3 separate regions of the Homo sapiens genome follow, and all the other regions are linked to region 1. The links come from fine-mapping of genetic effects on gene expression. A gene starts in region 1. Each other region holds a variant in brackets. All regions are shown on one strand. Distances are from middle to middle. Region 1 holds the start of TRIM6 (tripartite motif containing 6). Region 2 overlaps TRIM6-TRIM34 (TRIM6-TRIM34 readthrough). Region 3 has its middle 16 kb from the start of OR52B6.

Region 1 (2,766 bases):
AATCCTCCGTCCAGACTTTTGTATGGACACCCCAGTCCCTTCTCTCTCTATACCTCCCTCCCCAAGCCACCTTCTAAGGCAAGGTGATACTCACCTAATCAGTCTCCTTAGGGAGGAACTTTGACATTCTTTTTCTTCTCAGAGTTTCTGTGCTATTGAAACCCTGTAGTTAGAGTTCTGAGGCTCAATAAGCTTTACATGTATTCATCAGACCTAAATAAAAACAAAGATTGTCTTCTAGTTATATAGGTCAAAATTACAGATACACACACACAGCTTTATACATACATACGTGTAATTTTAAACTGATGAATTTTAATGATCGTTTGGCAAAACATGCCATTATGCAAAGGGGCTTTTACTCGTATAACTTTATATGTTTATTTAGACATTTTAATTAATACGTCTATATGGAGTACAGGTGTATTATCAGTGTAATTAAACTCTGATATGATATTAGAAAGCTACAGTACACTGCAGACAATTTACAAGGGTCATCTCTGGCCTGGTGTTCTCAAAGGCCTCCGGATTTGCCGTTCATCAGGTAAGATGAACAGCTTTGCGTTGCTACCTTCAAAAATTCTTTTTTTTTTTTTTTGAGAGAGAGTCTCGCTCTGTCTCCAGGCTGGAGTGCAACCTCCACCTCCCGGGTTCAAGCGATTCTCCTGCCTCAGCCTCCCGAGTAGCTAGGACCACAGGCGCGCCCAGCTAATTTCTGTATTTTTAGTAGAGACAGGGTTTCATCATGTTGGCCGGGATGGTCTCAATCTCCTGACCTCGTTATCCGCCCGCCTCGGCCTCCCAAAGTGCTGGGATTACAGGGGTGAACCACCGCGCCTGGCCTCAGAAACCATCTCCATCTCCCTTACCACCTGAGGGGTCACTGGTGACCACACCCATGGAATCGGCTGGATCTCCTGCGGGGCTGGACAATTTGACCCTCCTCCTCCCCAGGCCCCGCCCCTTCCCCCCTGAGTCTTTCGGCCTGGGTGGAGGACGCGGCTGCTTCAAGTCCTTGGCTCTGATCCAGGCCACAGATTCCAGGTTAGTGAGCAAGTTTATTTTCTGGCCAGCTACCGCTGTCCCCACTTGTCTGGAGAGTTTGACCCGCTCTGCAGGTCGGGTTGGGGGTGGTTCACGGGTGAAAGAAGAATGAGGGAGACTTCTGCATTTTCAAGTGAACTCAAGTTTGGGAAGGGAGCACAGAAGAGGCACCTTTGCAGCTGGGAATAGGCCGTGTAAAGAGAGTTAAACCTCTATTCTACAAGCTGAAGTATGTAGAGGAGGCAGCTCTGGAAACTGCTTTAGGGAATCACTGCAAACCATTTTGTCAGGCGTGGATTCAGAGTCAGCATCCCTTCCCCCCTTCCCCCGTTCTCCCCTTCCCCCCTTCCCCCTTCCCCCTTCCCCCTTCCCCCTTCCCCTCCCCCATCTCCAGCCTGGCCGCTCCAGGAAGTGAGCACCGTTTATCCCCCACCCCAGGCGGCCCGACTCCTCCCAGAAGGAGTTGGGAGATGAGCCTTCCGCAAACTCCTGACCTGTGGGTCCGTCCGTTCAACGGCCAAAGGCTGGCGGAGGAGGGATCCCCTGCCTTTCTCGGAACGGAACGGAGCAGAGTCGTGCGTGGTTGAGTTTAGATAAAAGCCGAGTGAGCGCGCTCTGTTCCTTAAGATTAGTTTAAGGTGCCTTGGATTGCTCTGAAGAGCTTTGACCACCTGATATTGCTTACATCTGGAACTTCTTGGCTTCTCATTCCCCAGATGTGCGGGTCAGAGAGGTATGTCTACCGTTCTGTTGACTGGCTCTTATTGTCACTTCTGGCAGAGGTGACAGGGCAGTGAAAGAGATAAGGTCCTTTCCCTTTCGGAACTCATTATATCTTTATTTCTTTTTCTTTCTCACTGCAAATGACCCCACTGAGGTTAGAGACATTTTAATCAGTCAGTCAATAGAGACAGAAATGTGTGGTTAGGAGCATAGATGCCGCAGCCAGACTGCATGTGTTCAAATCCTGACTCTGACAGACACTGGCTGTGTGCCCGAAGACTGTTAACTTGACTTCTTTGAGCTTTAGTTTCTTCCATCTATAAGATGGACGGAGTAATATGTATATCTTAGAGTTTTGGTGAGGATTGAGTGAGACAGATTTAAACACGTAGGAGGCTGCCTGACACAAATTATGGTCATTATTACTGGCAAACTCCATGCCTAGCTTTAAAAAAATGCACAATCAAAACAATTTTTAAATTATAGGTTTCTGAAATGCAGGGGGTAGAAATTCTTTTGAAGTGGAAATTAAATTTTTTGTTTTGAAACTGATTATGTTCCAATTCAAATATTTATTGAGTCCTGTTAGATAATCAATTGCAGATAATAGGTTAAATATAACCCTACACAAAGATAAAAAAAAATGTTATTCCTAAAGTGCAAGAACTCATGCCCAACTCACTTATAAATGCAACTGCCACCTATTTTATTCCACTTTCACTAGGGCTCCCAGCTGGTGGACGGGCCCGCTCTGTCATTCCTAACTCTGAACCCCCAGCCTACACCAGCCCCAGTATCCCCTGCTGAGTCACTGATTTTTATTCTGAAAGCCATTTTGATATCGATGCAAGCTTCCATTCTAAAAGATGCTTCGTATCTAAATAGCAGGCCATTCTCTGTCCCCCTCCCTCTTCTAGCTGTTTTGCACCCTAAATTGTATCCACCTGGGAAAGAAGGTCCTTTATCTAAGGCAGTGCTTCTGAAGCCTTAATGTGCGTA
Region 2 (2,766 bases), 26 kb after region 1:
AGAGGGATCTGAGAAGACAGATACTTTACTCCTGCACTGGTGTCTCTAGATAATTTCCCAGCTGGCTCTCTCTGCCTGTGTAAACAAGCCTTGAGGATATGACCCTTGCCAACTCTTGTTAGCCACTCCTGTTTACATAGAGCTCTAAGTACATGCCCATGGAAATAGCTGCATATTCTTGAATGACTAAACTTGCTCATTTTTCTGTCCAGGTCATTTCTGCTATCCAGAAGCACAGCTCAGCTGAGAGTGAGGCACCAGAAGAATGCCTAAGAGTTTCCAAAAGTGATGATTTTTCTACCATTAATATATTATATGTTGGTAGTATGAAAGGAAAATAAATCTTGGAGCTTCAAAATCACTAGGCCAAATAGAAAAGTCAAGCTGGGAACTGCTTAGGGCAAACCTGCCTCCCATTCTATTCAAAGTCATCCCTCTGCTCACTGACATAAATGCCTATCTGATTGACTCCTTTGAAAAGGCTAATCAGAAACTCAAAAGAATGCAACAGGTTGTCCTTCACCAACCTGTGACCTGGAAGCCCCCTCCCTGCTTGAGTTGTCCTGCCTTTTCAGATGGAACCAATGTACATCTCACATTTATTGATTGATGTCTCATGTCTCTCTAAAATGTATACAACCAAGTTGTGCTCTGATCACCTTGGGCACATGTTGTCAGGACCTCCTGAGGCTGTCAGGGACACATGTCTTCAGCCTTGGTAAAATAAACTTTCTATATTATCTGAGATCTGTCTCAGATTTTCGGGGTTCAGACTAGACAGTTGTTAAGAAAATAACAAAAAGACATTAAAGACATAGCATAGTTGCATGTCCATTGAACTCAGAGAAATGAGTTTTTTAAAAAGGAAAAAACTCAGCTGGGCGCGGTGGCTCACACCTGTAATCCCAGGACTTCGGGAGGCCGAGGCAAGCAGATCATGAGGTCAAGAGTTTGAGACCATCCTGGCCAACATGGTGAAACCCTGCCTCTATTAAAAATACAAAAAATTAGCCGGGCGTTGTGGCAGGTGCCTGTAGTCCCGGCTACTTGGGAGGCTGAGGAAGGAGAATGGCGTGAACCCGGCAGGCGGAGCTTGTAGTGAGCCGAGATCACGCCACTGCACTCCAGCCTGGGCGACAGAGCGAGACTACCTCTCAAAAAAAAAAAAAAGAAAAAAAGAAAAATTAGCTGGACGTGGTGGCGCATGCCTGTAATCCCAGCTACTCAGGAGGCTGAGGTAGGAGAATCGAACCTGGGAGGCGGAGGTTGCGGTGAGCCAAGATCATGCCATTGCACTCCAGTCTGGGCGACAAGAACGAAACTCCATCTCAAAAAAACAAACAAACAAATAAAAAAAACCGGAAAAAACTCAAGTGAACAAAATGAATGATGAAAAATTGAATGTCATCCACACAGAACTGATGGGCTAAGGTAATATACACATCTCAACACATGCTTTAACAAATCTGTCTGATGCTTTACTATTGTAAATGAAAGAGTATCTGAGAAAACTCTCAATCAATTTAGGAAGTTTATTTTGCCAAGGTTAAGGATGCACCCATGACAGCCTCAGGAGGTCCTGA[C/T]AACATGTACCCAAGGTGGTCAGGGCACAGCTTGGTTTTATACATTTGAGGGAGATGTGAGACATCAATCAATATATGTCCGCAAAGGCGGGACAGCTGAGTCCGGAAGGGGGTTTCCAGGTCATAGGTAGATAAAAGACAAACAGGTTGCATTAAGCAATAGGGCAAAGGAAGTAACCAGATATTCATTTATCTCACCTGAGCAAAGGGGTGACTTTGAGTTCTGTCTGGAGCTTTTTTTTTTTTTTTTTTTTTATCTTAGTAGCTGTCTTTTTTTGGAATAGAATGGGAGCCAGGTTTGCCCTAACCAGTTCTCAACCTGACTTTTCCCTTTGGCTTAGTGATTTTTGGGTCCCGAGATTTTCTTCCCTTTTACACTATCTAAATGTATTAGTTACCAATATTGAAATAAGGAAAAGAAATCTGAAAGTATTAGGTTGGTACAAAAGTAATTGCGGTTCTTGCTATTATAATACTTTTATTTATTTTGTTTATTTTTATTTTTTTATTTTTTGAGACAGAGTCTTGCTCTGACACCCAGGCTGGAGTGCAGTGGTGCGATCTCGGCTCACTGCAACCTCCGCCTCCCGGGTTCAAGCAATTCTCCTGCCTCAGCCTCCTGAGTAGCTGGGATTACAGGCGCATGCCACCATGCCCGGCTAATTTTTTTTTTTTTTTTTTGTAATTTTAGTAGAGACGGGGGTTTCACCATGTTAGCCAGGGTGGTCTCGAACTCCTGACCTTGTGATCCGCCCGCCTCAACCTCCCAAAGTTCTGGGATTACAGGTGTGAGCCACCACAGTTGGCTTTATAATACTTTTAATTTCAAAAGCCGCAATTACTTTTGCACTAACCTGATAGTAATTGACTCCCTTAAAAGTAGTCAAAGCATATTCCCAAGGTATTGGATGTGGATACATTTTTGTGGGAAAGTTGTTAAACTTCCAACAAGTTTATAATTGTCCTTGATCACCATGCATGAGTCAGATGGAGAGGGCAAAAATGAAAATTGTACCTTGTCAGGTGGTTTCCAAAGGTGGCACCTTTTATTATGTAATGTGCTCTACAGGAGGTAGACTAGGATTGTTTTGATGCATACAGCACAGAAAATGAATCTATCAACTTATATTCCTCATGAAAATGGAGCATGCTGTTTGTGGAGGCACAATGTGGGGTCATCCTG
Region 3 (2,766 bases), 32 kb before region 1:
GGATGCTTGGCTAACAGCAAGCCTCGGACATTGAATTTACAACTACACAGACATTGAGAGAACTCCAGAGGGATTTACCTAACTTCAGAAGTGTGGAGACATTTCGGGGTTGTGAAGCTTGTGAGAAAGGTCTTATTTTTTTCTGGAAAATTTATACCCTGGTAATATCTAAGGAAACATTCTGGGAAGGAGGGAGGTATGTGTATGGGGGTGGGTCTAGGGAATAGTCTCTCTGGCTTTCGTGAGCAAAGAAAATATATATTTCTTCATTCTTTGCTTATGATGCGCATATAGCATGCCATAGGACATTTGACCTGGCCTTCATTGCATTGTCTCAGGAGCAAGAATCAGCTGTGGGGGACCACACAGTTATTATTGTCTTTATAATTGAATAATAACAGTGTATCTTGTCCAGAATAATTTGTGTGTTCCTTCAAGATGAAATTGATAAAATGAATCTTCAAAACACAATATAATTCAGTGCAAACTTCTAATGTAAATGATCTTCAACTTTCACATAATTCAACCCTGTATATTTTGAGTGACCATTGTCCCTATGCTAATTCCTGAATCTTCTTCCCACTCTCCTTTCTTCTTCACTCCCTATAGTAATACAAAGCTATATACTTAAAAAGTTATATCTAAATCACAATAAAATAATGTGTTATCAAACTACTCTCAAAAATACGATCAAGTTTAGGAATATGAAAGGTCGTTGGGGTAAAACTAACCAAGGGGACATAAAAATCAGAGTTCAAAAGAAAAGAGCCAGTGAAGCGGTTGAAGCTCAAGTGCAGCCTTATAAGGCCTGCAGTCGTGGCCTGAGCCACACTCAGGCTTGTGAATTGGGCTTCAAGAGGACTATGGCCAGTGGTAAGCTGATGAATGCTTAACAGCCAATTCTTGGGGCTTGATTGTAGAGCAGCTGATTGAGAAAATGTAGATATTTCCACTATAGCTGACTTCAAGCTACCAATTTGATGTTGACCTGCTTGCAAAAGTCCTGAAAGTTAACATGTGGCTCTCATGAGCCAGTGGGAGCAGCCTCTAGCACATGACTCTTGTGACTCTAGTTAGACCTGACACACTGGGATTAGAATGATGTAACTCAAAAAGGATGTGATAATGAAGTCTCTGGGCTACAGAAATCCTGACTCATTCTGAGGTAGAATAGTGAGTAGGTAAGAACAAAAATTTTGGAATGAAATTGACTTATTTTCTATATATCATCATATATTTCTTGCATGATAATGAGCATATTGTTTAACTTTTATTAAGGTAAGATTCACATGACATAAAATTCTCCACTTTAAAGTATGTAATTTAGTAGCTTTTAGTACATTTCTAATGTTGTGTAACCATCACCAAAGTCTAATTTCAGGCCTTTTTATCACCCCAAAAAGAAAACCCATATTCACTAACTAGTCACTCTCCACTTCCTTT[T/C]CCTGCATTAACGTACTTCCTGTCTCTACAAATGTATCTCTTCTAGACATTTAATGTAAATGAAATTATGCAACATGTCAGCCATTTCTGTCTGATTCCTTTCACTTAACATATTTTCAAGATTCATTCATATTTCAGCATGTATTGAAACTTTATTCCTTTTTGTGGCTGAATATATTTTATTGTATAATTATACCACATTCATCAGTTGATATATATTTTACTTATTTTTACTTCTATTTTTGCTACTATGAATAATGGTCTTATAAGCAACCATTTACAAGTTTTTATGTGAACACCTGTTTCAGTTCTCTTGGGTATATACCTAGGAGTAGAATTGCTAGGTCAAATGGTATTTCTACATTTAACTTTTTGAGGAACACCCAAACTGTTTTCCATAGAGGCTGCACCATTTTACATTCCCACTACCAATGTATCAGGGTTCTAATTTCTCCTCATCCTCACTTGTTATTTTCCTTTTCATATATATATGAAATATATATATATGAAACATATCTATGAAATATATATATATATCACTGTCCTAGTGGATGTGAAGTAGGACAAAGTATTTTATGGAAAAAGATTACAAAATCATTTCCTCTTCTCCTCCTTGTTACCCAAGTTCAAGCTAAGCTTCATTTTCCAGAGGGAATAGCATGTATAAAGGTCCAAGTGGAAAGAAAACATACTTTGTTTGAAAAACTAAAAGAAATATGGTATGATTGTAACATAAGGGCATGTAAGAGTAAGAGAAAAGAAGGAGGTTGGGGCTAGTGGACACCAGACAATGACTGGTTGGCATCGAAATACTATAAAAGGCTTTGAAAACATACACGTTAGGAAATTTGGATTGTATTCAAAGCAAATAGATCTACTGTTGAATGATTTAAAGTAGAAGAGTGAGTCGATCTAGGTTTGAGTTTAGTAAGACCATGATATTTTCTGAGTAGCAAGTGGATGGGAGAGAAAAAAAGACTGGAGGTAGCAAATTCCTAAATTAGGGTATGGAAAACTTGGGAGAGAGAGACAATAGTGATCATATTTTAATGTGAAGTGTGTGGATAAATTCAAAGCATATTTAGAAAACATAATAAATAATAAACATATTTTTAAATAATTAAATAATTAAAATAAATAAGAAAAATAGACTTTGACATGGAAAACTAGTTAAATTTTATACTGTTTAGTAAGAGAGAATTCAAGATGATTTGTGGATCATGAAGCAAATAAGGAGAGAAAATGGTAATTTTTATTTGAACATGTTGATTTTGAAGTTTCAGTGGGAAATATAAGAGTAGACATCAAATAGGAAGTTGGCTA

Evidence for each region. PIP is the estimated chance that this variant, and not a neighbour inherited with it, causes the effect.
Region 2: its variant is fine-mapped to the expression of TRIM6 in whole blood (INTERVAL, PIP above 0.99).
Region 3: its variant is fine-mapped to the expression of TRIM6 in whole blood (TOPMed, PIP above 0.99).

The regions. Positions count from the first base shown.
Region 1 is chr11:5,595,138-5,597,903 of GRCh38, forward strand. TRIM6 (tripartite motif containing 6) reads left to right here and starts at 1,500. Exons shown (of 8, transcript NM_001003818.3): 1 at 1,500-1,777. The coding sequence starts at 1,761. TRIM6-TRIM34 (TRIM6-TRIM34 readthrough) reads left to right here and starts at 1,500. Exons shown (of 14, transcript NM_001003819.4): 1 at 1,500-1,777. The coding sequence starts at 1,761. It also overlaps a transcript of TRIM5 not described here. RefSeq lists enhancers at 822-1,116, 1,271-2,188, 1,435-1,484.
Region 2 is chr11:5,621,289-5,624,054 of GRCh38, forward strand. The region is part of intron 7 of TRIM6-TRIM34 (TRIM6-TRIM34 readthrough); the gene reads left to right. It also overlaps a transcript of TRIM5 not described here and a transcript of TRIM34 not described here. Among named protein-coding and RNA genes, the nearest start is that of TRIM34, 2.3 kb to the right of the region's middle. RefSeq lists an enhancer at 145-753. The variant C/T (reference allele first, on the strand shown) is at 1,584.
Region 3 is chr11:5,563,408-5,566,173 of GRCh38, forward strand. No RefSeq gene overlaps it. Among named protein-coding and RNA genes, the nearest start is that of OR52B6, 16 kb to the right of the region's middle. The variant T/C (reference allele first, on the strand shown) is at 1,444.